Linked DNA regions of Homo sapiens: region 1 is linked to region 2. The links come from fine-mapping of genetic effects on gene expression. A gene starts in region 2. The other region holds a variant in brackets. All regions are shown on one strand. Distances are between the middles of the regions. Region 1 overlaps DLST (dihydrolipoamide S-succinyltransferase). Region 2 holds the start of PROX2 (prospero homeobox 2).

Evidence for each region.
Region 1: its variant is fine-mapped to the expression of PROX2 in whole blood (TOPMed, PIP above 0.99).

What each region holds. Positions count from the first base shown.
Region 1 is chr14:74,894,798-74,910,763 of GRCh38, forward strand. It overlaps DLST (dihydrolipoamide S-succinyltransferase), which reads left to right. Exons shown (of 15, transcript NM_001933.5): 11 at 3,572-3,702; 12 at 5,126-5,199; 13 at 5,492-5,575; 14 at 6,269-6,436; 15 at 7,399-8,946. The coding sequence ends at 7,533. It overlaps RPS6KL1 (ribosomal protein S6 kinase like 1), which reads right to left. Exons shown (of 12, transcript NM_031464.5): 8 at 14,746-15,351; 9 at 14,304-14,393; 10 at 14,053-14,135; 11 at 12,638-12,733; 12 at 9,154-12,327. The coding sequence ends at 12,217. Among named protein-coding and RNA genes, the nearest start is that of RPS6KL1, 20 kb to the right of the region's middle. RefSeq lists an enhancer at 4,022-4,166 and a cis regulatory region at 4,087-4,100. The variant G/A (reference allele first, on the strand shown) is at 3,584.
Region 2 is chr14:74,866,907-74,882,872 of GRCh38, forward strand. PROX2 (prospero homeobox 2) reads right to left here and starts at 9,239. Exons shown (of 6, transcript NM_001243007.2): 1 at 8,989-9,239; 2 at 4,197-4,331. It overlaps DLST (dihydrolipoamide S-succinyltransferase), which reads left to right and starts at 15,010. Exons shown (of 15, transcript NM_001933.5): 1 at 15,010-15,110; 2 at 15,685-15,718. The coding sequence starts at 15,048. It also overlaps the pseudogene METTL5P1. RefSeq lists an enhancer at 9,184-9,683 and silencers at 14,942-15,168, 15,025-15,354.

The sequences.
Region 1 (15,966 bases), 28 kb after region 2:
CGGCCTCCCAAAGTGCTGGGATTACAGGCGTGAGCCACCGCGCCTGGCCTGTTTATTGTTAACTTTCACAGAGTGAGCCGCTGGCTTCTTCTCTAATTGGCTTTCCTAATACTATGCCTGCCTCCTCCATGACCTTAACCTTAGCCTTGGCTAGGTGTAGTGGCTCACACCTGTAATCCTGGCACTTTGGGAGGCCGAGGCAGGCGGATTGCTTGAGTCCAGGAGTTCAAGACCAGCTGGGTAACAAGGCGAAACCCCACCTCTACAAAAAATACAAAAATTAGCCAGGTGTGGTGGTGCACATCTGTAGCCCCAGCTACTTGGGGGGCTGAGATGGGAGGATTGTTTGACCCCGTCACTTACATATTTTCCTAAGTGATTCAGAATCGAGTGGATGAAAAGGCAAAGATAGGCTGGGCTTGTCTTTCATTTTACCCAGCTCTGACAGTGAAATGGAAAACAAGTTGTGTTTTTAAATAACCTTAGAATGTTAACCAAAGGTACTAATTCACTAGGTATGCCCATTTCTGTAGTGAGCTAATTGTTGACTTACCTGTTTTCTTCAAGATTTCAATGTGTTCAAGTATCAGCACTGTCAGGAAGAGAAATTTGACAAACGTGTTTTGAGTGCGTACTGTATACAGAGTACTGTACTGTGGAATTCAGTGGGGATAGACGCTGGGCACCATGGCTCGTGCCTATAATCCCAGAGCTTTGGGAGGGTGAGGAAGGAGGATCGCTTGAGCTTAGGAGTTGGAAACCAGCCTGGGCAACATAGCAAGACTGTCTCTACATAAAATTTAAAAATTAGCCAAGTGAGGGCTGGGTGCGGTGGCTTGCGCTTGTAATCGCAACACTTTGGGAGGCTGAGGTGGGTGGATCACATGAGGCCAGGAGTTCGAGACCAGCCTGGCCAACGTGGTGAAACTCTGCCTCTACTAAAAATACAAAAATTACCCAGGCATGGTGGCGTATGCCTGTAATCCCAGCTACTCGGAAGGCTGAGGCACAAGAATTGCTTGAACCCAGGAGGAGGTTGCAGTGGCTGATATCGCGCCACTGCACTCCAGCCTGGGCAACAGAGCGAGATTGTGTCTCAAAAAAAAAATTATGTATGGTGGCATGGACCTATAGTCTCAGCTACTTGGGAGGCTCAAGTGATCTTCCTGCCTCAGCCTCCCAAATGGCTGGGACCACTACAGGCATGTGCCACCAGGCTTGGCCAATTTTTTTAGTTTTTGTAGAGACAAGGTCTCGCTGTGTTGCCTAGGCTGGTCTCCTGAACGTCTAGGGTCAAGCCATCCTCCTGCTTTGGTCTCCCACTGGGATTACAGGCATGAGCCACCATTCCTGGCCAAAAAAGAATTTTTAAACAGGTCTTCAAGAGTGACTAGCATTTTGTCAGCCTTGTGGAGAAAGGTCATTCCAGATGATGTTAACAGTGTAGACCATGAGATGGGAAAGTAGAAGACACATTTGAGAAATTGTCAAAAATCATTTCTGTTGTGAGGATTTTGTATAGCAAAGAATGGTAAAGAAGGTTGGATCCTTATTTCAGAATGTTTTGAATGCCAGGGTAGGAGTTTATATTTAATTCAGGAAGCAAGTCAAGTCTCAGGTCATCTCTTTCTTTCTTTTTGTCCTGAGGGTTTAGTCTGCGAATCTACTTTTCATTAGAGAAATTTGCTTTTCTTTGGAAAGGGTTTGAAAAATAGGGAGAAGGGAGTGTTTTCTTGATAGTGCGCTGTGGCATTGTTCAGAGTAGGGCTCTGTGACCTGTTTTACTAGATGTCATCCATTCTGTTGGGAAACTTTCCGAAGAGACTGGATGACATTCAAGCCAAAGATTTCTCTCTTGTTCATAGGATGTAGGGGAAGGACCTTGACTAATGAATCACAAAGGCTGCAGCTTATGTTTCAGTGCATTAGGGCCAAATTGTACACAAATTGAATTGGACTTTGAAATTCTACCCAGTTTCTTAAGACAAAACATGTAAATATTTGTGGCCCTGAAAGATGCAGTTGGCCCAACAGCTTTGATTGGAAAGGAAGCGTAATAGCTGGATCTCCTTTCAGCAGCTAATCAAGGTGTCACTTAACAATGGCCTGCGGTCTTGCTGCAGCCTAATTTGGTTTAGATCGAGTGCCCTTTGGGTCTTGTGCTGATCAGCTAACCCATAAGGGACCTTTCTGAGACCTTCTCCCTTCCTCTATTGTCCCAGCCTTTGCCTCCAAGGGCAGAGCTCTGAAATAGAAGCTACTTAATGACCAGACAATAACATTTGGGCAGGTTTGAGAGCAGAGATGTTTATCACATCTCTTTCCCTCTTCTGCAGCTCTTGTGTCTTGGGAACCAGTAATGTCTTTAGGGTGGTAATCCTAGCACTAAATAAGGTTAGAATCAGGAAAACAAGCATTTTAAACCCAATCAGTCCCCCTTGGAAAAACTTCCTTTTTCAAAAACAAAAGATCTGAAGGGGGCTGTTAAAATTGTACCACATCTTACCTTTCATGCTAATGTCGAATTAGGCCATTAGAGGGAGAAAGGGAGAACTGAGCATTTGGCCCTGAGATAAAGTTAAATTCAATTTTCATCGTAGAACTGCATTACTGCATTCCGATAAATACTGAGGTTTATGCAGCAAAGTGATGGGAAAGCCATTTCTCACTAACTCTGCAATGTGTCATTGAAAAAAAACCAGTCCCAAAAGAATAAAGGCTGCTCATGTTGTAAAGGCTTTTCAGAAGGCTTGCTGCTTAATCTGAAGGGAACCAGCCTAAACCACAAGTGGCCACTTTTCTAAATACCAAGGAAATCACAGCCATTAAACTAATCTTAGGGCAAGAACTATGTCTTAATTAGCTTTGTATCTTGGTACCTGGCCCTGACCCTCACATGTAGTAAGGTGTTAGTACCTGTTTGGAAGAATAAGTGGATGGAACTGCCAACCCTGGAAAGATGAAGAACGGATATGACTTTCCGTGGGCCTGAAAGAACACTGGGTTATACCCTTCCCTGCAGAGTCATGACTGCTTTTTCCCGCATGGAGCCTCATGTACCCATGAGCTGTTTATTTTAGTCTCCACTAATCAAGAGATAGGAGGAATATCACACGGGAGTTATACTCAGATTTGGTGGGGTTTTTTTTTTTTTTTTGTATTCTAACAAGAAATAAAAAGAATATTGCTTATTTTGTAGATTTTGTTTATACTTTAAAAAATTTTTTTTCAGGATGGATAGCTCAGTTATTCAGGGCAAGGATGTTGGTGTGCTGTGTGATCTCTTGTTCATATGATGTGTCACTGAAATCTGTGACTTCTAGACCATGAAGGAGCCCTGTAAAGAGATCAACCCACCTTAAAGACAGATTGGGCCTGATTCCTGTAGATTTCTTTGTAAAAGAACAGAGTTACTGTGTTAACCTCAGGTAGACTATTTCAAAACTTGAACTAAGGTAATGGTCCAGAGTGAGGGAAAAGCTCTCACCTAATTGTGTATATGGATTGAGAAACCTGTGTGAAAGTCAAAATGCAGGCTTTGTGGTCAGTTTGTTTTGTAATATTTTCACAGTAACATCCAGGA[G/A]ATGAGGGCTCGGCACAAAGAGGCTTTTTTGAAGAAACATAACCTCAAACTAGGCTTCATGTCGGCATTTGTGAAGGCCTCAGCCTTTGCCTTGCAGGAACAGCCTGTTGTAAATGCAGGTGAGTTGCTTGTGGCTGGAATTGGAGAGGTCCTGGGAGGTAGGTGTATGAGCACAGACCTGCTCCCACATGCAGAGGATCAACAGACCAAGGCTTTTTATTTGCTACCTATAGAAATATCAGTATCTTCCCCAGGGATTTCTTGGTTCACCTTCCTGAAGCAGCATCATGATTACTTTCTACCCGCCAGCTGGGCAGAACAGTTTCTCTTCCCAGTGTACAGCTCGGCAGCTGCTCAGGCAGCAGGCAGTTCTGGGATAGCCCAGCTCTCCAGGCTGTCTCCTGTCAAGGTGGAAGCACGTGTTCTGGCTTCCTCCCCTCCCCCAGCTCCACAGGCCCTGTTACCTTGGGGCCTGACTTCCACAGTTGGTGTAGGCTCCTGGCTGACCTTTGATCTTAGGTCGATGGGCCTCACTGGGAGCTTCGGCTTGGCCTCTCATGGACCTGGTGCTTATTTTCTTTCCTTTTTACTTACCTACGTCATTGTAGTGTTGACCTAACAAGCACTTTGTTTTCCTGTTGACACACTTCTCTGTTCCTTGGGAGATTGGAGAGGGGTCAGTGCTACTTTTGCCATCCTCAGCAGTGTCAGGGGCCCTAAAGGTCTAGAAGTAGAAGCCCTAGTCCCTCCTGTTGAGTGGTGCTCTAGGGAGGTAGAAGGCCATCTTTGTTTTGCCCAAATGTATACCTCTTCTTTTTCCCATTCTTCTCATGCCTCCCTGACTGGCTCTCATCTTTTTCAGTGGCCCCCTTCTGCTTGCCCACACATGTAGGCGGCTCTCAAAAGTTCTCGTGGCCTCTTTTTCACATTACATGCTTCCTCTGGATGTCTTATCTAACAATACAACATGGACTTTCTGCGGAAATGATTCCCAAGCCTTTATTTTCCCATTAGTTGCTAGGTGTACATTTTCAGATGCTGGTTTGCCATCTCTTGAGGTAGCATATTTCAAAGCCAGATCACCCCGCTTACTCTTGGATCTCCCCTCTTCCTCTTGTTGAGAGTTGGAAGCAGAGAATGGGTAGTATCTCTATATCCCTTTTCCTTTGCTAATTTGCCCTTTTTTGGAACATTTGTTAACCCTAGTCATTCTCTGCTAAAGGAGGGCTTGACTAGAGCTACTTAACGAGAGTTTAGTGCATACCTATCCTATGGAAGCCAGTGTGTTGAGCCCTTCTTAGGGCTGCCAAAGAAATGGATGCTCCTATGCCCAGGCTCAGTCAGGGACTTGGGAGATACTATACTTGGGATGGGAGTAAGTGGAATGCCAGCTGCCATGCATAATGCAGTGGTGTTCATGGTGGTTGGTCAGCCCACACTGTATCAAGCTCTGCAGATTTTTACTCTGTTAATGCACATATTACCTCATTAGTCTTGGCCTTCCTGGGGAGTTGTATGTAACATGTATTTTCTCTCTCATAGTGATTGACGACACAACCAAAGAGGTGGTGTATAGGGATTATATTGACATCAGTGTTGCAGTGGCCACCCCACGGGTATGTTGGGGCAGGAGGTGGGGAATGTTGGTCTTAGACCCTCACCTTATCTGTGTGAAGGAGATCACACAAGAGAAATCATTTCTTTAATTCTGTATTTTTAGAAGGGAGTTAGTAAAAGTAACCTTTTTTTTCTTTTAAACCATGCCGCATTCTTTTAACACTTTCTGTTAATCACACTGAGTAATGAAGGTATTCTAGGGAGGGCATACCATGGGTTGAATCAAGGGAGTTGTTAACTATAAAAGGTACTATTAATTTGCAACTGAAAACAGCTTTTCACCCCCTTCAGGGTCTGGTGGTTCCAGTCATCAGGAATGTGGAAGCTATGAATTTTGCAGATATTGAACGGACCATCACTGAACTGGGAGAGAAGGTAAAGTAGAAAGATGTATACAAGCTGCTAAGCAGGCGAGGGAAGAGAGCCTTCAGAAGGCTGGGCTCACTAGCAAGCAGTGCTCATGGAAAGTCAAGTGCATAGCCCCTGAGAAAAGCAGTTGCCCATGAGAGCTAAGTATTTTATATATCTGGTGGAGTTTACCATGCTCTGGTAACTGAAATCTCATCAGATGAGACCTGCTAGAAAAGATCATCTTTGAAGTCTTCAACTGTATGAAATTGTGCCTTTTCTCTGGTGGAGCACTGGTCATAGACACCTTAGCCGAACAACTGTCACACGGAAGCTAGCGCTTGTGCCATCGATCTCGATACAAGCTTTCTGGACTTCCTTTGCTTTTTTGTTTTTAGAGGCAGGGTCTCGCTGTGTTGCCCAGGCTGGAGTAGAGTGGTAGAGTCATAGCTTACTGCAGCCTTGCACTCCTGGGCTCAAGCGATTCTCCTGCCTCAGCCTCCCAAGTAGCTGGGACTACAGGTGTGCACCACCATGCCTGGCTAATTCTTAAGTTTTTTATACAGATGGGGGTCTCACTATGTTGCCCAGGTTGGCCTTGAACTCCTGGCCTCAAGCAGTCCTCCTGCCTCGGCCTCCCAAAGCGCTGGGATTATGGACTGACTTTAGGTGAAGGAAACTGGGTTGGCTTGATATTTCAATTATGAAATCTGTTTTTAGGCCCGAAAGAATGAACTTGCCATTGAAGATATGGATGGCGGTACCTTCACCATTAGCAATGGAGGCGTTTTTGGCTCGCTCTTTGGAACACCCATTATCAACCCCCCTCAGTCTGCCATCCTGGGGATGCATGGCATCTTTGACAGGCCAGTGGCTATAGGAGGCAAGGTAGGAACCGTCACTTCTAAGGTCCTAGTGGCTAGGTCTCGATGAAAGGGAAATCCAACTAAATGCTAATTGTAAAACATTAACTATAATTTCAGGCCTAAGTTCCATTTCTTAGTTTCTAATAGCTAAGGCACTGATTATCAAATTGTGGTCTGGATCAGCATCATCTGGGACCTTATTAGAAATGCATATTCTTAGACCCCATCCCAGACTTAAAGAAGAAGTGCAGATGATCCTGATGCATATTCAAGTTTGAGAACCACTGAGCTGAGGAGGCTTGTTTGCTTCTATGGAGTGGGGGATATAGTTGGAAACGTGGTCCCTTGCCCCTGGGAAACAGATGACAATTATGCATGTCAGTCTGTGAGCTGCCAAGTTGTATGATAAAGCTTGTAAATTTCCCGGGAGTTCAGAGAATTAAGTATTAAAAGGGGCTTGAGCTGGCCCTTAGAAGATACGTTGGTATCAAAAAAGCTTTCTGGGAACTCCTGTGTTTAGAATCCTTTTGGGTTACTGACTCCTGTGTGAAACCACAGTCTGTAGATCTTCCTGGAAAATGCCCATACACCCAGCTACACATACAATTCCAGAATTTGTAGACCCTGGCTTAATTTTTTTTTTTTTTTTTAAATTCTAACCCCAGAGAGAAGCAAGTACAGGCAGCCAGAACTGAAGGGAAAACTTTCCTTGTAGGCAGCAGATGCGTTAGAGGGCAGAGTATGTTTTTAAAAAATAAAAGGCAGTTGTGAGAAGACAGTTTTCTTGGCAAACTTTGTTTCTGAGTGGGGAAGCTTTGCACTGAGGGTAAGTCCTGGTCTTTGAAATACTGTAAATATGCAGAGGCAACATCAATAGGAAAGGCTCTGGAATTAGGAACTTTCTTATGGGCTGTGCTAAATCTCCTTCAGCGAGGCTGGCTGTGGCTTGCTGGAGACAAACCTATTTACCTTTCCTCTCTGTAGGTAGAGGTGCGGCCCATGATGTACGTGGCACTGACCTATGATCACCGGCTGATTGATGGCAGAGAGGCTGTGACTTTCCTCCGCAAAATCAAGGCAGCGGTAGAGGATCCCAGAGTCCTCCTCCTGGATCTTTAGGAGGAACCCACACACCCTACAAGTTGATCATGCAGGAACTGAAAACCAGTCTTCTCCCTGTCCCCTCATGGGTCCCGGGTTAGCCTGGTGACAGGCAGACACATGCTGTTGGCCTCAAGCAAGGAAGCAGAGCACTGTGTAACCAGCAGTCACAGGTCTTTTCTTGGCGTTCCTGCCAGGCTCTCCCTCTCTGCACCTGTCTCATAGCCTCGAATATCTTAATTCCTTAGGCTTAAGAGAGAGAGCCTTAATGGATGCTCATTCATATTCCTGCCTTTCTTCCATCAGCTCTCTGCAAAGATGATTTTGCTTTTCCCTAGTGCTGGTATACTATAGAGAAACCCCTGGGGACCATGTGATTAAGTTCCTATCTTTTGAAAGTTTGTTCTGCAGAGACTTCTAGGAGGATGCTGTGCCTCCCAAGCTCAGAGCAGCCTCTGTCCTGGCTGTGCACATTCTCCCTTGATTCCACTTGTGTGGAGGGATTGAACACAGGCAAAGAGGTGCTGCTTTGCTTCTTCAATGGCACCTTCATTCTCCGTTGTCATTGACTTCAAGATGCCTCTTCTACCTCTTCCAGGAAGCACAGGCCAGGGGATCTGGGTGTGTGAGTGGGAGGAGAGGGCAGAGGTCCCCTGAGGTCATGCATTGTAATCATCATAGAAGGAGAGCCCAGGCCTGCCCTCACGCTCTCCATCATAGGCTGACACCAAGAAGACTCGTCTTGGCACAATCTCACACAGCTGGGGCTGTAGCAACCCTTTCCAACCCCTTTGCTGGTTGCTGGGCCTCATTCTAGCACCTTGTTCTTAGAGCAGATTCTAGCACATCATGGCAGTGGGACCAAGCGTGGTCCCGAGGAAGGGCCAGAGCCTGGTAGAGACTAGGGAAGGGAGGTCTCCTCTAGACTGACTCACATTGCCTTGAGCTTTTCAGTTAAGTTGCTGTAAGCACCTGGGCTGAGGAGGCAGTTTTTGTTCCTTCCTGCGTTATAGCGGGGCCTTGTCTCTTCCTCTGCAGGACACAGATCTGGAGGACGTGGACTGGGGTAGGAAACCACCCTGAGGGTGTTAGTACCTAGTGGTGAAACGGATGAGGTCATTTCTAAGGTGTGTTGCCCGTGGATCTGGGCACAATCATTGGAATTCCTTGGAGCCACTGGGATTCATGGCTTTGTATCCAACTGCATCCAGGCCTGAGGCTGCTGACGTTTGACACCAGGGCCAGTAGAGAGTGCCCTTTTGTATCTTAAGCCAAGAAGTGAGGCCTGGGGGTGGGGGAGGGGGGAAGGGGTGGGAGCCAATACTGAGTGCCTGCAGCATCTACTACTCTGTCTTCACTATTCAGAACTTGTAACTAAAGTATTTAAAGAAACTGATTTTAAATGCAAATTAAAGGGCAGATATTCTCAAACAGGGTTCCTGTATCTGTTCCTTTTGGCTACTGAGGTGGTACAAGTCCCCAGCACTGTTGCACTGAAATTATTGAAAGCCACTCAAGGTCCTGTTGCTTATTTTGTGAAATCAGAAATCCCTTATGTGGAACTTAACACTCATAATTTGACAGAAGGTAGAACCCTGACTGCCAGCCGGGAAAGTGTTGCCAAAAAGAGTCAACCTCTGTAAAAATATTTGAAGAGATTTATTCTGAGCCAAGTGTGAGTGACTGATGGCCTGTGATACAACTCTTAGGAGATCCTGAGAACATGTGTCCAGGGTCGTCTGGCTACAACTTAGTTTTATACATTTAATACATTTTAGGGAGACATAAGATACCAGTCAGTACATGTAAGATGTACAGTGGTTTGGTCTGGAGAGGCAGGACAGCTCAAGACCTGGGGATGTTGTCATAGGCAGAATCAAAGATTTTCTGATTGGCAATTGGTTGAAAGAGTTATTATCTAAAGACCTGGAATCAATAGAAAGGAATGTCTGGGTTACAGTAAGGGGTTGTGGAGACCAAGGTTTTATGCAGATGAAGCCTCCAGCCAGCAGGCTTCAGAGAAAATAGATTGTAAATGCTTCTCATCAGACTTAAGGAGCCTGTTTTAACAGTAATTCCAAAAGGGAGGGGAGTATAATGAGGAATGGCTGGCTCCCTCTTCCCACCATGGCCCGAACTAGCGTTTCAGGTTAACTTTGGAATACCCTTGACTGAGACGAGGGGTCCATACAGATGGTTGGGGGGCTTAGGATGTTTTTTGTTTTGTTTCCATAAAGCATCATAGTCTCTTAGTGCCCCACCTTCCTTGAGCCTGTCAAGCCATACTCTAGAATAGAGAATTTGGGGTCACCATCTTTGTGAAGCCCTTTCAAAACACCAGTAGACTTGCATTTTTTGTGTGGGCTTACATTATTTCAGTGATGGATTTGGGAGGAGTGGGGGCATCTCATTTCATTTGGATTTGATAGCCTTGTGGACCAAGATGCTCAAGGTCAATACACATGAACAGGTGAGGGTTGATGACCTAGGAGCAGTGGTCAGTGAGCGTGAGTGTACAGGGTGGGTAGCTAACCTAGACTGCAGGTGGCAGGTGTGATGGAGTCCAGGCTTAAACACAGCCTTGTCTTTTCCAGAGTCCCTGTCTGCTGAGCTCTTGCAGTGAGGCCATCCCTCTGTGAAGGTCTGTCACAGGAGGGAAGTGGGTCCCAGAGAGTAGAACTAGAGCTCTAGTAGATAGAAAAACAAATTAGGTTGAATGAAAGGAAGAACAGGATTTGGTGTTAGAAGCTTTAATTTATCTATCTGGTAAACCTGCAAAATAGGCATTATTTACCCCATTTTATCGAAAGGAGGTCGACTGTAAGAGCTGGGACCCACAGTATTCTAAACTCAGGGCCCAACAAAGTGTCAGATGTGTAGCTTTGGGTGGATGAAGCACAGAAGTTCCAGAAGGGACTTGTGCTTCATGAAGCGGTGGTTGGAAGTGGTCCAGCCTGACTTAGGGAGAGTAGCAGAAGGAACACTAACTTGCAACTCTGGCTAGGTTGTGTCCTTAACCTTTTTGAGCTTCAGTTTTCTCAGGAGCTACCGTCTGTTGCAAGGGGTCACTGTGAGGATGAAACTGGTATTCCCCCAGGCACCATGAGCCTCTTCCAAGGCTTCTTCATCCTCTTCCCCACAGAACCTGGTCCTCCCCGACCCCACCCCTTCCCCTGAGGCCCACATGGCATGCTGCTCACCACCAGCCCTGCGTCCTACTTCCTGGCAGCCCCAAGCTCGCTCTTGACTTCACTCTGGAGCTTCTACAGGGGAGCCTTCCAACCTGCCCCAATGAGCCGTGGTCATTGCATGGAAGAAGCGAGAACACCGTAGGCCAGAGCAGGCTTTATTGGGGCCGTGTAAACCCCAGGGAGAGGCAGGACGTGGACCACAGAGAGTCATGTACAGGCTGCGCTTTCACTTGTCTTCTCTGTCTCAGTCTCCTGAAGAGCCCGAGGAAGTCAAGTCTCCCCACCATGAGTGAGGGGTCTGGTCTGACAGTTGGGCCTTCAGAGCCAGGCACGTGGACCGTGTCAGAAGCGCCACCTGGTGGTGACTGGGATGCTGGCAGGGAGGAGCTGAGGGCAAAACTCTAGTGGAAATTTCCCAGGTCGGTCCCACGCCCCGGTGACAGGGTGAACCCTGAGAGGAGCCCCCAAACTGGAGGCAATTGTCTTTGAGGTAACCACTCACCCCAGCTTTTCAGAGACCAGAGGCAAGACATTTCTGGCTAAGAGCCATGGATAGTTGTTCCATGCGTTTTGTGGTTTCTTATCCCAAAAGGGCATGAAGTCACAGTAGGCAGTGACATGGTAAACAGCCAGGGCCTGAGAGGGAGTCCTGATGGGCACACCTTGTCTAAACTGCTTTGGCCTGGAAGCTGAATTGCTGTCCTCTTGCACCCCTGGGGCAGGCTGCCCCTCTTCCCCCACACAGGCCCACTGGGGAGGAGGACTCTTGATTCTGGTTTCAGACTTGCTCTAAGGGGCAGACCCATGCATTCCTTCCTCCCCCCATTACTCTTATTTTCTTCCCCTCCCTTTTGCTCTCCCAAGTCTGAAATCACAAGATAGGGGGCATGGTCAGGAATCGGGGGTGGGGGGGTGGGGGTGGGGGTCATCCTGTCCCCTACCTCATCCCTCCCTGCACAACAGATGGCATCCCTGCTTCTGGGCCTCCCCAGCTGCACGAACAGCTTCTGGTGGAAGAGGCCTACTCGCTGTGTGACTAAGAGGACTAGCCAGGACAGTCTGGTTTGGGTCCACTGAGCCAGTGGATCAGTGTCCTGAGATGAGTCTCCAGAGATGTCCTGAGTGGGGCACAACATGGCAGTGAGTGAGTCACAGAACCTCACAGTAGGGTGCAGCAGGTGGTCAACAGCTCAGCGCCAGTGCCACAGAAGGCAACCTTTAACATGGTGAGTCCACATGCTCAACGGGTCTGTTGACTGATGGGTAGATGGTTCAAGCTGCTTAGCAGGGCAAGCCTTGACTGCCCCCACCTCCAGCTTTTCCAGGAGCTGGCCCTTCCTGGGTGGTGGCCATAATTCTGAGGCCCCAGTGGGAGCCCAGCAGGACAGACAGTGCCCTCCATTCCTCGCCCAAAGCCCGCTGATAGAGGGCCAGCCCTGGGTTGGGTGTCAGGCAAGGAGGAGAGGCGATCCAGACCAGGCCAGCTGCTTCCGTCACCCGCTCTGCCCTCTTACCCCACCAGCTTGCTCCATTGGATGGTACTGAAAAAGGGATGGGACTTGAGTTTGCTGACACCACCTTCTCCCATGCCCAGGCGCCGGGTAGGCTCGAACTGCAGCAGCTGCAGAGAGAGGCCCAGTCAGCTGGGCCACTCCAGCTGTGGAGGCATGGGGTGACCTCCAGGGACTCCAACCACTATGGCCTCTAGGGGGCCTGCTCCCTGGCAGCCTGGCCCACAGAACCCCCATTTTACCCTGGGAACATTGGTGGTGGTTGGCCACCAACATATAGAAATGTGTTGCCCCTACTGCCCTCTGCACCCACATCAGACACTGAGCACGAAGCACACGTGGTTCAGACACAGTTCTGTGCCCCTCCCAGCACCTTCCTCAGGCTAGGCAGCTGCTTCCTCTGGCCGGGCTACACCTCACCTCAGTCAGCAGAGAGGCCGCTGGGCGACTGAGCCACTCGGGCAGCTGGAGCTGGGTGTGGGCCTGGATTCCTGAAGGGTGGCTCTGGGACAGTGCCTGGGAGGACACAGGGAAGGGCCTCTGAGGAGGCAACCCCAGGACCGTCTACACTCCAGTGGCAGCCAGGATTTTTTTTCCCCATGTCACAGCCCATGAGGAGGATGACAATAATGATAGTTGCTACAGCCAGACACAGTGCCTGATGGCTAAGCAGTGCCTTTATGTTATCCACGAAAGGCAAGAAACAGGCCCAGAGAGGTAAAGGGACTTGTGCTGAGTTCAGGGTTTGAACCTAGGTCTCTTGGCTCCAAGCTTGCTAGAAGCAACTATCTTGGGTTGCAATCAGGGCAGGCACTCTTGGGAATAGTGATGGAACTTGTCTCCTTATTTTAAAAATCCACACGGGCTGTTCATTTGGCAGCAGGCCATGGCATGCTACCATCGGGGCCAAGGCAGCGGCGTGGCAATAAAAGAAAATAGGACCTCTCCACACCCCAGAAAGGCACAGCTTTGAGGAGCAGAGGGTCTGTCTGGAGGGAAGTATGAGCTTCCAGGAACCCCCAGGAGGAAGGCCAAGAGCTCTGGGCTGGAGAGGTGGGAGGAGACAGGAAAAGAGAGAGCCACTCTGGGGGAAATTGCAGCCAGGACTTTCGGGACCCCGTGCCATGGGACGAAAGCAGGAGGGAGCCTGGATGGACTGGTCAGCTCTGGACTTCAGTTCACGCTGCATCCATTTCGGCTATTTCCTGCTCAAATGCAATTTGGCCTCCCCCTTGCTGCCTACATAACTGGCCTCAGTTGCAGTGTTCAGCTCATGAGGGGAGGACAGAAGGCAGAGCCATCAACTGTTCCCAAGAGTGCCTGCTCTGATTGCAACCTGCAAACACAGGTTCCCGGAGTGTTTGCAGGGGGATCTTTTGAGCTCTTGGCTGACCCAGGCTGGACAGGGCAGCTGCTTGCCTGGGTGAAAGAGCCCCTCTCTCCCATCCTCCAGCTAAGGTCTGGGGGTGACAGCCAACGAGGTCATGGGTGGGAGGAGTGAACAGCGGGCTCAGGATGATTGAACAGCCTTCCAGGGAAGAAGGGCTGTGTCACATTCCGCGCTTCCTCCAAATCTGACACCACCTGGGCCCAGGCTCTCTGGCAGAAACCTTCCCTGACCATCCCACTCTACTCGTATTCATAGAAGTTGACAGTCTCCTTAGCTATAGCCAACTAATGTGTTGGGAGTGCTAAGTGTGTCCCTGGCTTCGGGGGCAGTTGTGCTGGTAGGACAGCCAGGCAGTCTCTGCCCAGACTGGCTGGATGGACTAAGCCTGGCCCATCCCACACTCAGTGGCACCCACCAGGGCACTACACCCAGCCCAGCCACTCACCATTCCCGTCAGCAGTTCATACAGTAGAGACCCAAAGCTCCACCAGTCACAGGCTTCCGTCAGCTCGGAAATCCCACCCACCTCTGTGGGAACAAGAACACAGGTGTCCCAGCCTCACCTAAGAGGGCCTCTTCCATTCTCCTCAGCCTACCCAGACACCACCCACCCGCTCTGTCATTCTCAGACTCTGGGCACAACCCACACAAAGGCACCCAGGTGCTAAGGCCCACCCTGGCCTCCCCCCTTCTTGCCTGGGGCGCTGTAGAGATTGTCCACGGCCTCCCCGCAGCACTGGGGCTCCACCTCTGACCACTGGCCAAAATATGTGAGCCGGATGTGACCTCCAGTGTGTGGGAGGAAAAAGGAGGGGACAGATTGAGGACAGCTGATACAGGGGAGGGGGTTGCAGGGCTTCCCCCAACAGTCATGCGGTAGGAGCCAATGGCCTTGCTGGGCAGAAACTCGGCAGGGGCACAGCACCCTCCACAGAGGCACAGCACTCTGAGGCCCACAGAGCCCACAGGGTACTCCCAGGAGCCTCGGCCAACAGACTCCAGCCTAGGCCCCCTGAAAGGCTGGCTGGGGCCAGGGAGGAGCAGACAACCTTGGAGGTCCCCTCGACTTTGGGGATCTCTCGTCCTCTGCCTGGACGCTTTGGGGGCCACCCCACTGAGGGGTGAGGAGGGCACCTACCTGCCTGGTCCAGGAGCAGGTTCCCGGGGTGGAGGTCCCGGCACAGCACCCCCTGCTCGTGCAGCGCCTCCAGCGCTACCAGCATCTCTGCCGCCCACTGCTTCACCTGCTCCTCTCTCACACTCCAGGTGGCCCTGCCACAGCCCCGGCCGGCCCCATCTGCTGACAGGCAGCTCTGATCCATGCCTCGGCCACAGCCCCCTAGCACCGGGCCGGCCCCCTCAGGAACCCAAGTGAGCCCCCGAGGGGGCCCAGCGTCTGAGTTCTGGCCAGCCCTCCTAGCTTGAAGGTGCAGGTGGCCACCTGGGGCCTTTGGAAGGTCCGAGGAGCCAGAGGTGCTGGTCCTGGCTGTGGGTTCACCTTCAGCCTCCCTCTGGGGTCTGGTGGATGGGGCCTCCCCAGCTAGGAGAAGGTTCGGAGAAGTCCTAGGAGGCTCCAGGGCGATTCTGTCCTGGCCAGGGGCATGGCCTGAGGGAAGCCTCGCTGGGGTCAGGAGGTTGAGGTGGGGGTTGAGCTGAGCCTTCATCCTCTCCTGGGTAGAGCCAGAGCTGAGCCCAGAATGTCGGGAGTGCGCCTGGGAGAGCAGGTGGGACCAGAGAGTGCCTCCTGGGCCATGCAGAGGGAGCGGTGAGCGTGGGGACAGGGAGAAAAAGAGTATGGATGCCAGGGCCGGCTCCCACTCCTGCCTCCCTTCTGTCTTGGGCGCAGACTTTCCGCCTCTGGGTGTCCTGGCCTAGTTCAGCCCCTCACCTCTGCTCCCTCCCACCCCTCAGCTTAGAATGCCCTCTGCCCTCCTCTTGACCCAACTAAAGTGGGCCCAGCCTTACAAACTGGCACACCACCGAGAGATGTCCAGCACTATCAGTGTCTGTGGTTTGGGTGGTGGGTTCACTAGTGTGAACACTGTTTTTAGGGAGACCGATATAAAGAAATTTAAAGAAAAGTCAGGCACACACTTATGATGACTATATGTCATGACCCCAGATGTGCACCTCACTTTAAAAAGTCATCAATACAACCATCAGTATCTGCTACATGGCCCAGTTCCTGTCCTCATAACTTCAGTCACCACCACCCTGTCTGGCCACTCCCAAGGGATCGGCACAACCCGGAAAAATGAAAAGAGCCAACGCTGGAGGAAACAGCGACAGAGGAGACAGCTGTGATTCTCACGCCCACCCACGATGTGGACATCCACCCCAGGATGTCCCCTGCCCCCTT
Region 2 (15,966 bases):
AATTTCTGGAGCCATGTGCTTGAGTAGGAAGGAGGGGAAGAGATCTAGTGCACACAAGGAGGGATTGACTTTAGACAGGGGAATGCTCAGTTCATCCATGCAGCAAAAGGAAGAGCAGTGGAGGCACACCAGTACAGGCAGGTGGATAAATGTGATGGGAACTGGTGGAAATTTTCTTTTGATTGTTTCCATTTTCCCCATGACATTGCCACTGGTATTAATCTTCTAAAATGTAGCTAGCTCTGCTTATGCCCCTCTATGGAATCAAAGTCTTTGCTAGCTTCCTGTGGACTAGAAGGTTCAGATGTCTCAGCTCTTCACAAACATGGTCTCGATCTAACTCCTTTGGAGCCACTACCCTCAACAATTGCCTGTGTCCAGCTGTCCTGGACTTTGTGTTCACTGAACAGGCCAGGCTCCTTCCAGCCTCCGTGTCTTTGCATTTACATTCTCTTGGCCCGACCAGCCCTTCTCCCACTTTTCCACGGACAAACTCTTATTCCTCTTTCAAAATCCAACTGAAATGTCACTTCCTCTCTGAAGTGATCAATGCATCTTCCCCTTTGGTCTGTGAGCTCCCTCTTTGTGTTCCCAAGTAGTGCCTGACTGCCAGATGTTACCAGATGTTTGCTAACTCCATTGAATAAATTGTCCATAAATACTTCATTTATATTGATTTTTGTCTCCTCAATAGACAATACTTTATTTCAGATCTCTCTAGCACCTAGCATGGAGGCTTGTGCATGGAACAAAATCAATGCAGACAGAAAGACAGACGGGTAGATAGAGTCATTGAGGAGAAGAGCATAGAACCACTAAAGCTGCTGAATCTCCCTTGTGGGTTATTCAAGGTATTGTTTCTGAGGTTCCGTGTAGTCTGTGTGCTCCAGAAGACAGATCTACTAGGGTAACAGATGGGACCAGTGTGTTTAATGAAGCAACAATGAACAGAAATATCTTGAGGCCAGAAACTGGAAATCCAGCCAGACTCCACTGTGGCTGGGTACCCAGAGATGTTTACGCCCATGCAATCATGGAAACTCTGCCTCTGGGCTGCTGAGAAACAGGAAACCTCTGTGCTGAGGCCGGCGTGCTGCCCACAGCCCTTTATCTGGGTAAGTCTGCATGAAGCAGTGATGCTTTCTGTTTGAAAATTAGCTACTAGCACTCTCATATTCACTGATGGAGGTAGCAATTGTCATAATCCTTTAAAAATAGCTTTATTGCATCTCTTAGACGATGAAAGTAATGTAGGATCATTTTACTTCCCAAATATAGAAATGTATTAAGAGGAAAAGAAAGACACTCTAATGCCACTCCCAGAGAAAATCAGTTAAAATTTTGGTGTTCATCATTTTTGCCAAGCTCTTTTCTCCATGTACAGAGAAGTTTATAATTTCTCGTAATTATATATATATATATATATATATATATATATATATATATATATATATAAACAAAAATGGTATTATAGATATATAGTTTTATGCCTCCATTTTTAAATCTTTCATGTGGATGAATATCAATCTACAGCAACGTTGTGAAAGCTGATAATATTCCATTGTATAGATGTACCCTAATTTACTTAACAAGTTCTCCTTTGATAGATTCCTTCTTATATTTTCACTATTATAGAAGCATAGACAGGCCGGGCGCGGTGGCTCACACCTGTAATCCCAGCACTTTGGGAGGCTGAGGCAGGCGGATCACGAGGTCAGGAGATCGAGACCATCCTGGCTAACACAGTGAAACCCCGTCTCTACTAAAAAAAATACAAAAAATTAGCTGGGCATGGTGGCGGGCGCCTGTAGTCCCAGCTACTCGGGAGGCTGAGGCAGAAGAATGGCGTGAACCCAGGGGGGCGGAGCCTGCAGTGAGCCGAGATCACGCCACTGCACTCCAACCTGGGCGACAGCGAGACTCCGTCTCAAAAAAAAAAAAAATAAGATAGTATGGAGATAGATGGAGAACATAGACCCACAAATCAGACTGCCTAGACTTGAATCCCTAGAGCCACTTAGCTAAGTTTGTGACCTCTCCGTACCTCAGTTTTCTCATCAGTAAAATGGGCATAACCATAATATCTATGGTTATTGTGGAATTCACATCTGGATCCAATAAGTTAACACATGTTATATTTTTAGAACAGTTCCTGGCACTTACTTATTGCTGATAAGTTGTAGCTATTGTTATTATGAATAATATTGGGATTAACACTCCTACATATTTCTTTGGGGACTACATTTCTAGAAGTGAAAATATTGCATCAAAGGCTGAGACTACGTTAAACTGTTCTACTTCTTTTCCAACTGTCCTCCAGAAATGTACCAACTGACTGGGGGTAGAGAGGAGGGACTGAAGCAGAACCTTCAACTTTTTTTTTTTTTTTGAGATGGAGTTTAGCTCTTGTTGCCCAGGCTGAAGTGCAGTGGCGTGATCTCGGCTCACTGCAACCTCTGCCTCCCACGTTCAAGCGATTCTCCTGCCTTAGCCTCCCAAGTAGCTGGTATTACAAGCATGCACCACCACACCCGGCTAATTTTGTATTTTTAGTAGAGACAGGGTTTCTGCATGGTGGTCAGGCTGGTCTCTAACTCCCGACCTCAGGTGATCCACCCACCTTGGCCTCCCAAAGTGCTGGGATTACAAGCATGAGCCACCATGCCTGATCTCAACTTTTACTCTGTGTATTTCTATATTAATTGAATTTTTACAAGAATATATTCGTGTGTTACTTGTATATATATACTTTTAAATAGCCAATTTATGCTCCTACCAATGTATCTATAAAAGAACATACATCTCCTTATCTTTATCAACGCTGGGCATTGTCTTTTAAATCTTTGCCGTTATGGTAGGTGACAATGTTACCTCATTATGTGTATTTCTTTGATTCTCAGTAATCTTGCTCAGTTTTCATATATTTTTTGGAAATATTCATGGATTGTATATTAAGAAACTTAAAAATGTTTATACCATTTGAATCAGTGAGTCTATGTCTATGAAGTTAAGCCAAGAAAATGATGGCTAGACTCATAAATTTATGTCAAAGATGGCCATCCAAGTATTATTAATAAGAGTAGGCACTAGTTAAGGTATGGTATAATCTACATGATGCCATATTATGCAACCGTTTTGAAAAATAGTGTTTAAGTAAAGTTTATGTAACATTATTTTATAAAACTGGAGTGGGGGGGTAAGAGAAAATTAGATATTAAAAATACAAAGAAAAATATGAGGCCAGGTATGGTGGCTCATGCCTGTAATCCTAGCACTTTGGGAGGCTAAGGTGGGAGGATTGCTTGAGCTCAGGAGTTTGAGAGTAGCCCAGGCAACATGGCGAAACCCTGTTTCTCCAAAAAAAAAATCACCTGGGCATTGTGGTGGCTTGTGCCAGTAGTCTCAGCTACTAGGGAGGCTGAGGCAGGAGGATCACTGAGACCAAGAAGTTGAGGCTGCAGTGAGCTCTGATTGCGCCACTGCACTCTAGCCTGGGCAACAGAGGGAAAGCCTGCCTCAAAAAAAAAAAAAAAATACACACACACACACACACACACACACACGCCCATACATTATAGAGAAATAAATACATCAAAATGTTGTTTATGGGTAATAGAACCACAGGTAATTTTTTTCTCTATTTTTTCTTTTTATTTTTCTGAATTTTCTAAATTTTTAATGGATATGTTTTCAGTTTTGTAATGAAAAAAGGCAATCTTGCCTTTGTTAATTAAACATTTGCATGTATGGAGAAAGCTATGCATGTTGAAGGCAGGGGATATATGCGAAATCTCTGTACTTTCCATTCAATTTTGCTGTGAACCTAAAACCACTCTAAAAAATAAAGTCTAGGCCGGGCGCAGGGGCTCACGCCTGTAATCCCAGCACTTTGGGAGGCCAAGGGGAGTGGATTGCCTGAGGTCAGGAGTTCGAGACCAGTCTGGCCAACATGGTGAAACCCTGTCTCTACTAAAAATACAAAAAAATTAGCTGGGCGTGGTGGCATGCATCTGTAATCCCAGCTACTTGGGAGGCTGAGGCAGGGGAATTGCTTGAACCACGGGGGTGGAGGTTGCAGTGAGCCGAGATCAAGCCACTGCAGTCCAGCCTGGGCAACAGAGCGAGACTCCATCTCAAAAAAATAAATAAATAGATAGATAAATAAATAAAGTCTAGACAGATGTGGTGGTGCTTACCTGTAGTCTCAGCTACTCAGGAAGCTGAGGTGGGAAGACTGCTTGAGCCCAGGAGTTCAAAGCTGTAGTGTGCTACGATCATGCCAATGAATAGCCACTGCATTCCAGCCTGGGCAACAAAGTAAGACCCTGTCTCTAAAAACATAAAGTAAAATAAATAAAGTCTATTTTTTTTAAAAAAACTGCACTTTTTTCTCATTAACTCTTTCCCAGATACATATTCCTCGGTACCAGAAATAAAAAACCCCACTGGAGAAGCAAATTTAGCTACAAACACAAGCATAGAACACAGGGCTTATAAGATAACTGCGAAGGCACATAGGATTTTATAGCTGGAAAATGTAAAATGAGGGTGAGTTTGAATTTCAAGTATATAATGGACGACATAAGGCTAGATGTGGTAGCTCACGCCTGTAATCCCAGTGCTTTGGGAGGCCAAGGCTCAAGGATCACCTGAGCCCAGGAGTTCGAGACCAGCCTGGGCAACATATCAGATCCAATCTCTGCAAAAAATAGAAAAAATTAACCAGATGTGGTGGCACCTGTCTGTGGTTCCAGCTACTTGGGAGGCTGAGGTGGGAGGACCTCGAACCCAGGAGGTCGAGGCTATAGTGAGCCATGATAGCACCGCTGCACTCAGCCTGGGCAACAGAGCAAGACCCTGTCTCAAACAAACAAACAAACAAACAAGAACATACGAGAGAAGTTGTGTGTTGTCTCCTTTCAGCTTTGTGTTAGAGCACCGGGGCATGAGCTGAAAAGGAACAGCCAGTGTCTGTGGCATCATCACCTGCACAGATCACCTCCTACATGGCAGCCTTTCTCCCTGTGGGTCTATGTCCTTCCATGGAATATCCCTGGAGAGCTCCCGAAGCTCTGCCCAAGTGGGACAAAGGGGAAGGGCTGCCTATGAGGCCAGCTGAGGTGAGACTGGCAGCTCACAGGCCATGTCTCCCCTTCTGTGATGTGTACACATTTAGGGAACAGCAAACACCTTTGATGCGCTTCAGCTGGGTCACAAGAGAACCAATCAATAAAGCAAGGTGGGCTATGGAGAGTCCTTAGGTAAAAGGTACCTCGTGAAGCCCAAGAGATGCTAACTCATTCTCATCACTGTCATTGAAGCTCAAATCAGATTTATACAAGCAGTTTTATTGTTATTTCCTTGATAAAATTCCTGCCTGGTTTTTGTTGGGAAAACATGTTTTTCTTTGCAGTATTTTGTTCATTCATTTCCTAGATTCAGTTGGATTCCAACTGGACCAGCCTTGTGCTTAGTAGATGACCACCCAACGTGATTGGAAAGGTATGGAGGAAAATGCCTTATCCTGAAACAGCTGCTTTTACCTTCATCAACACTCATTATGGGATCTAAGGGCCCACCACTGGCATTTCATAATAATGATGACTTAATCACATCTGTATATGAATACATTTTTGCCTTACCCATTGTACTCCTGAACAGCCGCCCATCCAAATACTTGCCAGACAGAGCTAACTTTTGCTACTGATGAAGACTTGTTCAGGGTAGCACATCTCAAAGTCACATAGCGTTTTTATGCTTTTCAAAGGCATTTTCATATACAGCCTTGTCCTGTTTTATTCTCTATGATGAGAGGCCCCCTGCACTGTCCCCACTCTGCTACAGGTCGGAGGCCACCCATCCATCTCTGGTCCAGCCCTGAACAGGCTCTCTTCACTGCACTGGCTAATGACAGAAATGAGGAGAGGGGGTCAGACTGACAGGCCCAGGCCACACAGCCCTGTCCATCCACAGACACAGACACAATGGAGTCAGAAGCCCTGGTGGTCTGCATCAACCACTGCATGGCTGTGAACTATGGAATGATCTACCAGGTATTAGACCTGGGGGGAATCGTTAGCTATTTTTTTTTTCTTTTGAGATGGAGTCTCGCTGTGTCACCCAGGCTGGAGTGCAGTGGCGATCTTGGCTCACTGCAACCTCCACCTCCTTGGTTCAAGTGATTCTCCTGCCTCAGCCTCCCGAGTAGCTGGGACTACAGGCACGTGCCACCATGCCCAGCTAATTTTTTGTATTTTTAGTAGAGGCGGGGTTTCACCATGTTAGCCAGGATGGTCTCAATCTCCTGATCTCATGATCTGCCCGCCTTGGCCTCCCAAAATGCTGGAATTACAGTCAGTCGTGAGCCACCGCGCCCAGCCCTTTGTTAGCTCTTATGTGAACTTACACAAATTAACTCTGCCTTTTCCCCTTCAGTTTCTCTGGCTGTAAAATGGGGTTGATAACAGTCACTCTCTTAGGATTGTGGTGAGGATCACATGTGGTGGGCCTTGCATTCTCTGGTGCGGGAAATAGGCACTCCTTAAACTGGTTTCCTTTCCTCCTAGGGGGGGTTCAGGAGCCCCCACAGCCATAGAACTCCAGAGCTGGAAAGGGCTTAGGAGCATCTGGTACAGTGGCTGGTCTCCAGATTTTTATATTTTTAGATGTCAACCATTAATAAAATGAAGAGGTCTTCTGGCCCCGGCCAAGGTGCCAGTCGCCTCCTGAGATCCTGTGCCTTCAAACCCTGAGAGTCCATATTTTTAAAAAAACAAAATGAAGGAATTAAGGCTTAAGGAACTAGAGAGTCACCTGCAATAAGTGGATGGATTCGAAAAGGCCAAGCTACTTCTAGAACAGTATCCCACCAAGCTTCACATTGCAGCATGTATGCTGTATGCAATCCATAGCACTTATGATGACATTGAAAGTGAAGTTTTTGCAGATCTAGGCTGTAGTGGTGGAATGCTTAGCATGGGAACTGCAGTGTGAGGAGCAGGGTTCTGTGTTGGATTTGACAGAGATGAAGATGTATTGGAAATAGTTAATAGGAATGTGGAAGAGTTTGAGTTAACAAATATTGACATGGTTCAATGTGATGTGTGCCTGTTATCTAACAGGATGTCAAGTCATTTGATACAGTAATTATGAATCCGCCTTTTGGGACCAAAAATAATAAAGGGATAGATATGGCTTTTCTAAAGACCGCTTTGGAAATGGCAAGAACAGCAGTATATTCTTTACACAAATCCTCAGAGAACATGTTGAAAAGAAAGCTGCAGAATGGGAAATCAAGATAGATATGATTTCAGAGCTTTGGGATGACCTGCCAGCATCATACAAGTTTTTTTTTTTTTTTTTTTTGATATGGAGTCTTGCTCTATTGCCAGGCTGGAGTGCAGTGGCGTGATCTTGGCTCACTGCAACCTCTGCCTCCCGGGTTCAAGCGATTCTTCTCACTCAGCCTCCCAAGTAGCTGGGATTACAGGCGCCCACCACCGAGTCCAGCTAGTTTTTGTATTTGTAGTGGAGACAGGGTTTCACCATCTTGGCCAGGCTGGTCTTGAACTCCTGACCTCGTAATCCACCCACCTCGGCCTCCCAAAGTGCTGGGATTACAGGCGTGAGCCACCGCGCCCGGCCTATACAAATTTCCTAAAAATAAATCAGTGGGCATTGGAGTGGACCTAACTCAGTTTTCATTTTAAAAGCCCCCAAAACAAAAGTAGTTTAAAACTTATTTAAAATGAATAAAAATTGGTTTACTAAAAATAAAAAATGAAACGAAGAGGAAAGATATTGGACCAGTTTGAGAGTTACTGACATTTTATTTTGCAGGTGAAGGCACAAAAAATAAGTATACAAAAGACTACTATCTACCATCACTTTTATTTCCTCTTTAAAATTTTTTCATCTCCCTTCATGACACATGATTTTTATTTCTTAAAGAATCTTAGCTGGGCGGGGTGGCTCACGCCTGTCATCCCAGCGCTTTGGGAGGCTGAGATGGGTAGATCGCCTGAGGTCAGGAGTTTGAGACCATCCTGGCCAACATGGTGAAAACCTGTCTCTACTAAAAATACAAAAATTAGCTGGGCGTGGTGGTGCATGCCTGTAATCCCAGCTACTCAGGAGGCTGAGGCAGGGAGAATTGCTTGAACCCGGGAGGTGGAGGTTGCAGTGAGCTGAGACGTGCCATTGCACTCCAGCCTGGGCAACAGAGCAAGACTCCATCTCAAAAAAAAATAAAAAATAAATAAAATAAAATCTTAACCACTTTGTTTTTAAAAGAATAAAAGGGGGAAATGCATAATATGCAAATAAGTTTAGCTTTGCGAAAAACTCTTTACATTGTCTTTTCTCATTTTTCTAAAAACCAAGGGAAATGTCACAGGCTAGCGTTAGGGGTCCGAGGATCTTCATGACATGCCTTTACTTTATGGATGAGGAACCAGGAGCCCAGAGAGGTAAGGTGACATGCCCAAGGTCACACAGCAGCTGCAATGCCTCCTTGCTCTCTAGGAAAACACCCCTGGACATCAGAGATCCTTTCATGTGGCTGTACAAGCACTTGGGCTGGGAGTTAGGAGGTCTGGGCACTACTCCCAGTCATTGGCCCTAAAGCCGCATATTCTGCGTTTCAGCTTTTATAAAATGGAGATGATAATCATCCCTTCACTGAGAACTTGGGTGAGAATCTAATGAAAGAAGAGCTTCAAAAGGGCTCCAGAGATGCATACACAGTATTATGGAGTGAGGAATTAGGGAGTGAAATGTCTCCATGTCTATAATTTGCCTGAAAGTATTTCAGCCAACAAAAATAAGCAAATACATATGAACAATTGTTAAATCTAGGTGATGAGTATAGGGGTGGGTATTGCTATGCTACTCTGTCTACTTCTCTGCATATTTGACAATTTTCATAATGTTCCATAATTTTTTAAAAAGTACTCTGGCAAGGTAAATGGAAAGGATGATGTTACTCACAGGGAAGAGGTCCTCTGGGAGGTCCTTGTCTTGGGCTCTGTGGCCAGGTGGGGCCAACCACTCTAGAAGACGGAGCAGCCCACTCTTCACCAGCCCTGGGCAGACAGAGCCATGGTCAGGAAGTGCTTCTGGTTTCCCTGCTTCCTCTCCAGGCAGGCCGGGTGCCCGTGGCTGGGTGAGGGGAGGCTCTGGCCCCTTCTTAGCACAAGGCACTGTCTGACAGACCCAGTCTTGCTGCAGCCGCTGACTCTGGGGACAGTGGGGGCTGCTTAGCGCAGCCAACCGGCATGGGGGGCTTATGAATATGCAAATTGAGGCCAGCTGGTTGGCTGCCCCCATGCCATTTCTCAACGCCACCCCAACTCAGGTGCCCAGAAAAGCCAGCTCAGAGAGGGCCTTCCTGAAATGCCATCTCTTCTGTCTTTGCCTATGGACCACAGAGCCCTTTGAAAACTTGGGGACTGAATCACCCAGCTTCTCTCATTGCTCTGGCCTCCAGCGGGAAGCTCCTGACTTCTGCTTTCAAATTCCCCAGAGAGGCAGCTCCAATATGAACATCCTCTCCCTGTCCCTCAAGCATCCTGAGAAGACTGGAATCAGCCCAACAGCAAACCATGGCATCTCAGATCTGCAGGAAGGAGAGGCTGCGTGGTCCCTCCCTCCCACAGAGGCCTGAACACTGCTGAGGAAGCTGCTGCTGGGCCAAAAGCACCCATCCCTGACAGATCTGGGAGAACTCACTGGCCAAACCCACCTACTCCCGAATGTAACCCAAATTTTGCCTTCCCCTCCTCCTTCAGCTTGAGAAGTGGAGGGGATGTTGTGAAATACAGCAATGAAAATTAGTAAACCACAGCTCAACTCATCAACGTGGACAAATCCTCAAAATACAATGTTGACTGAAAGAAGTAAGTCACAGAGGCTGGGCTCAGTGGCTCACGCCTGTCATTCCAGCACCTTGGGAGGCTGAGGCGGGCAGATCACTTGAGCCCAGGAGTTCAAGACCAACCTGGGCAACATAGAGAGATCGCATCTGTACCAAAAATACCAAAAAAAAAAAAAAAAAGAAAGAAAAAAAAATGTGCTTTTGGTCCTAGCTACTTGGGAGGCTGAGGTGGGAGGATGAGGATTGCTTGAGTCCAGGAGGCAGAGGTTGCAGTGAGCCGAGATTGCACCACTGTACTCCAGCCTGGGCGATAGAGTGAGACCCCATTACAAAAAAAAAAAAAAAAGGGTGGGCGCAGTGGCTCACGCCTGTAATCCCAGCACTTTGGGAGGCCGAGGTGGGTGGATCACAAGGTCAGGAGATTGAGACCTCCTGGCTAACACGGTGAAACCCCGTCTCTACTAAAAAACACAAAAAATTAGCCGGGCATGGTGGCAGGTGCCTGTAGTCCCAGCTACTTGGGAGGCTGAGGCAGGACACTGGCATGAACCTGGGAGGCAGAGCTTGCAGTGAGCCGAGATCACACCACTGCACTCCAGCCTGGGCAACAGAGCAAGACTCCGTCTCAAAAAAAAAAAAAAAAAAAGAAGTAAGTTACAGAATGATACAGGCACTGTGATTCCATTTCTACTAAGTTAAAAAATAGACCAAAAAAAAATACCCACACAAAAACATGTCTAGATTTTCATTGTGTATTCATCAGTCCATTATTTTGAATTACAACTGAATGAAGAGATAGACAGATAGATGGAATCTAGGTATCATAGGTAACACTGAGTGAATATAGGGCATAGTCCCTATTTTAAGGAGCCCAAAGATGGAAGCATAGGCTATAGCCCCATCTACTAGCTGGCCGATAATATTCATAAACTCATAGGCAAGGATGTGAATGTATGGTTCAGAACACACATAAGAAAACCGGGGGATTTGAGGTAAATGAGCTACTTAATCCTTTCTAAAAACACACCTTTTTTCTTATTTAATTTGAAAGTAAATACATCTTTCATTTTCATTTTTTATTTTTTTCTATATCAGACCACTGCTGGAGACATCTTTTTCTTAATTTAAAAACACAGGCAAAAATGTGTATAGAACATAAGCATATTGAAGCTATAATGAAAACAAGGGGATGGTTAATATATAATTCAGTATAGTAGTGGCTAACTGGGTGTGATGATGGAGGAGACCACAGGGAACTTTTCCATTCCTTCAGCTGGGCAGCAAGTATGGGAATTCCTTTTATTATTTTTCTTTTAAACTGGACACATAGATTTTTATATCCTTTTTAATACGTATTTTACAATGAAAATGTTTTTAAAAATTATCTTTTGGGCCGGGTACAGTGGATCACGCCTGTAAGCCCAACACTTTGGGAGGCCAAGGTGGAGGGGTCACTACGTCAAGAGATCGAGACCATCCTGGCCGACATGGTGAAACCCTGTCTCTATTAAAAATACAGAAATTAGCCGGGCATGGTGGTGGGCGCCTGTAGTCCCAGCTACTCATGAGGCTGAGGCAGGAGAATCGCTTGAACCCAGGAGGCAGAGGTTGCAGTGAGCCAAGATCATGCCACTGCACTCCAGCCTGGCAACAGAGTGAGATTCCACTCAAAAAAAAAAAAAAAATTCTCTTTTGAGCCCTGCCACAATTTATATTCATAAACTCTTGCCCCAGTAGATGGTGCTGTGTCTTGGGAAGCTCTAAATGAAGGAGTGCCCTAGCTTATTGGGTTGCAGCTTGGAGTCCATGGAAGCTCGTATGTGAATCTCGAGGAAATCAATTTCAACTTTTACCCTCTCAATGGGATTTTGTATGAAACCATGCTCGAGTGTGTGTGTGTGTGTGTGTGTGTGTGTGTGTGTGGTGTCTTTAGACTGTAATATCTAAGATTAACTTGGGTGATCACTAAAACTCCAGAAGTGCTTTGCCACATTATAACCAGGCTTGAAGTCTTGAAGCCTCTACATCTTTTTTTTTTTGAGACGGAGTCTAGCTCTGTCACCCAGGCTGGAGTGCAGTGACATGATCTCAGCTCACTGCAAGCTCTACCTCCCGGGTTCACGCCATTCTCCTGCCTCAGCCTCCCTAGTAGCTGGGACTACAGGCACCCGCCACCAGGCCCGGCTAATTTTTTGTATTTTTAGTAGAGACGGGGTTTCACCGTGTTAACCAGGATGGTCTTGATCTCTTGACCTCGTGATCCGCCTGCCTCAGCCTCCTAAAATGCTGGGATTACAGGCGTGAGCCACCGTGCCCAGCCTGAAGCCTCTACACCTTCTATAAGAATCTCAAAAATTGTTAAAGACTGTGAAAGCCTGTAATCCCAGCACTTTGGGAGGCCAAGGCAGGCGGATCATGAGGTCAAGATTTTGAGACCATCCTGGCCAACACCCTGTCTCTACTAAAAATACAGTGACACCCTGTCTGACACCCCGTCTCTACTAAAAATACAGAAATTAGCTGGGCATGGTGGCACGCACCTGCAGTCCCAGCTACTCGGGAGGCTGGGGCAGGAGAATCACTTGAACCCGAGTGGCAGAGGTTGCAGTGAGCCAAGATGAGATCATGCCACTGCACTCCAGCCTGGGCAGCTGAGCAAGACTCTATCTCAAAAAAAAAAAAAAAAAAAAAAAAAAAAAAAGACCGTGAAAGGACTGGGTAGCTATCTAAGAAAAATATTAACAGCAACACTGGCAAGAAATTGCCATAGCCCCTGACTACCGTTCTTGGATTCTTCAGCTGTGTCCACCAATGTTGTAAACATGGAAGTATTTAGTCATTCCACAAATATTTATTGAGTACCTACAGAGTCCCAGGAACTCTGATGTCCCAGGTGTTGTGTTTGGAAAATTCAGGAAAATAGAGAGTGGTCTCTTTCCACCTGCTGCTCTATGCAGCATGGGAGACAGACAGGTAAACAGGACATTACAATAAAATGCAATGTAGAAACCCAGACACAGTGCTTTGGAAGCATAGAAAATGTATCTGTTAACTCTGCCAGAGGGGTTAGGAAGGGATTAAGAAGGAGATTTAAAGGATGACTAGGAGTTCCTAGGCAAATAGGAGGAGGAAACAGCCCATGCAAATAGCTCAGCAAGGCTATGGCCAGTAGTGTGGTTTGACTAAAGCTCACAATCTGTGAGAATGTGGGGAGAGAATCAGAACATAATCAGAGGCCTGATTATCAGGTGCCTGGCCAAGTTGAGGAGTTTGTACTTTATCCTACAAGGGAGATAAACTTTATCTCCCTTGCTTTATCCGACCAGGAGAAGCAATGAAAGACTTTAATCAGAGGAGTGACAGGATTAGGTTTGCATTTCAGAAGGATTTCTTTTTTTTCTTTACTTTCTTTTTTTTTTTTTTTTTGAGACGAAGTCTCACTCTGTTGCTCAGGCTGGAGTGCAGTGGTGCAATCTTGGCTCACTGCAACCTCCATCTCCTGGGTTCAAGCAATTCTCTTGCCTCAGCCTCCCGAGTAGCTGGGATTACAGGCATTCACTACCACACCCAGCTAATTTCTGTATTTTTAGTAGAGATGGGGTTTCACCATGTTGGCCAGGCTGGTCTTGAACTCCTGATCTCAAGTGATCCACCCACCTCATCCTCCCAAAGTGATGGGATTACAGGCGTGAGCTACCACACCAGGCTCAGAAGGATCTTTGACACAGATATAAAGGATGATGGGCTAGAGAAAGCGAGAGCGGAGGCTTAGAACTGCTTAGGGAGCTTTTCAAATAATTCAGGTGAAAGCTACTGAGGAGTTAATTGTGGGTAGCAGCAGGGCAGAGCTGTTTTCTCTATTTCTAGTTAGGACTTTGGCCCATCCTTCCAGAATTTCAGTGGCAGTGCTTTCAGGGTTCAGGTGAGTGAAGGCACTGTAAAGGTCCTGATGGAATTTGAGGCCAGCCTGGGCAACATAGTGAGACCCCGTCTCAATTTATATTAAAACATAAATTAATTAGAAAAATAAAAAATAAAGGTCCTGAGGGCCAGGCAAAATGCCTCAGATAAAGAAATCATCATGAACGGCACCAAGTGGTTCATTCATTCATTCATACATTTATGTGTTACTAATTCAGCCAGAGGTTTAAAGCACATCTTTTTCATTAGGAAGGTGAGCCTTAAAGGTGAATACTCAAGGGGCCTGAATACTTAAGGAGGGGAAGGGGATGCTATATGCTTTCACTTCAAGTCAGCGGGAAGAATGGCACACTCAAAGTGGGGAGGTCAGCCTGGCATGGTGGCACCTGTAGTCCCAGCTACTCCAGAGGCTGAGGCAGAGGGATCGCTTGAGCCCAGAGTGTCGAGGCTCCAGTGAACTATGACCTTGTTTCTTAAAAAAACAGCTGGGAGTTTATATTCTAGGGATAGGGTGACAAACGAACAACTTCCAAAATGCACAAGATGTATGGGGAACAATTAGTTTGGCTGGAATTTGCGTTGGGGGGAGATCAGAAGCTGTTGAGAAATAAGGCTATAGTTGGTGAAGATATCCGACTCGTAAAAAGGCAATGGGATTTAGAAATTCCTGGGATTCTGTTTCTTTGACTCGGGGTTAGGAAGACAGGGAAGTAACAAGTGCCTTTTTTTTTTTTTTTAATAGTTAAGGGACCTGAGACTGGGGGTGGGGGGCAATGTCATCTGCCCCAGGCCACACAAGTGTAAGATCAGGCATGCATGTCTGCCAAGGTTTCAGTTCAATGTCCGTGCCCCTCTTTTGCTCTCTTCCCAAGGTACAGAGGCGGAACGGCGCGGTGCCCTCGGGTCCCAAGAGAGAAGGGCGCCAAGCTCAGAGCCAGTTCTGTGGAAGGGTAGGGGAAGGCCTGACCCCGGGGGCAATGTGGTGGCGGGACAGTCGTATACACCTTCAGGAGAACCACCTCAGGCTGACAGGCAGTGCGGAGGGCCCCAAGAGCGCCTTAGGGTTGCCTGCTCCAGAGAGCGGGACTCCTGCGCTGCAGCCGGGATACTGGGCGCCGCCGTGCGCCCACCCCCTGCCAGTGGTTCGCTCCGAACACCCCTCGTCGGGCGGCGGGTACTGCGGCCCGCCCCACTTCCGGTTGTTGTCCGGCCCTATATCCGGTGTCCGCCCGCCCTCGGCTCCTCCGCCGTGATGCTGTCCCGATCCCGCTGTGTGTCTCGGGCGTTCAGCCGCTCGCTCTCCGCCTTCCAGAAGGTACGGTCTGGCCGAGCCGGGGCCCCGACGGGTGAGGAGTCTGTTGGCGGGCAGAGAGGCGGCCTGGAAGGCAGGGGCGCGGCGCGCCGGCCGGGCCGGGCACCAAGGGCACTGGGACGCGGAGGCCGCGCGGGCTGGGCGGCCCGGGGCCGTGGTTGCCCTCGGGACCGTTTTGCGGAGCCCAGCGGCCCCCTGCCTTCTCCAGGCAGCCTGCGGGGAACGTTTCCTGCTGTACCCCACCCTCCGCGCGGGAGCTGGGGAGCCGCGCCCGTCCAGATACTTGACTCAGAGTTAGGGAGGAGGCGCGGCGGAGTCCTCCGGCGGGATTCGGCGCCCGTCTCGTCTTGCTCTGTTAAAATCAGTGGGTATTAATGAGTCCCGTTGGGAAGTTGAGATAGTTTGGCAGGCCCAGCGTGTTGATTGGGTCTGCCAGCACGGTGTGTTGCATTTACCTTCGGAGTTACGAGATTCACCTGTCACCACCACTGGGACAGCTTTGAGCGTGTACTTAAAAGAAAAAGCTGGGTTTTTTTTTCATCTTGGGTGACGTCGATAATGTCTTCTTTCTCAACAGGGGAACTGCCCTCTAGGGAGACGTTCCCTGCCTGGTAAGTTCTGCCCTTACCGTCACCTAAAATGCTCTCCTCCTGGGCAGAGCAGTATGTGAGGAACTCGGGGGTGCCTGTGTTTCTCATAATATTTAAAGACAGTTTGGTTCAGAGAGTAGTGAGACGCAATGCTACATAATCACGAGCTATCGCTTATTCATTTAGCTCGTAGTTGAGTTTCTACTGTGTTAGGCACTGTGCTAGACGCTAGGGATACAGGAGTGGATACAGAAGTGTACAGTTCTTGC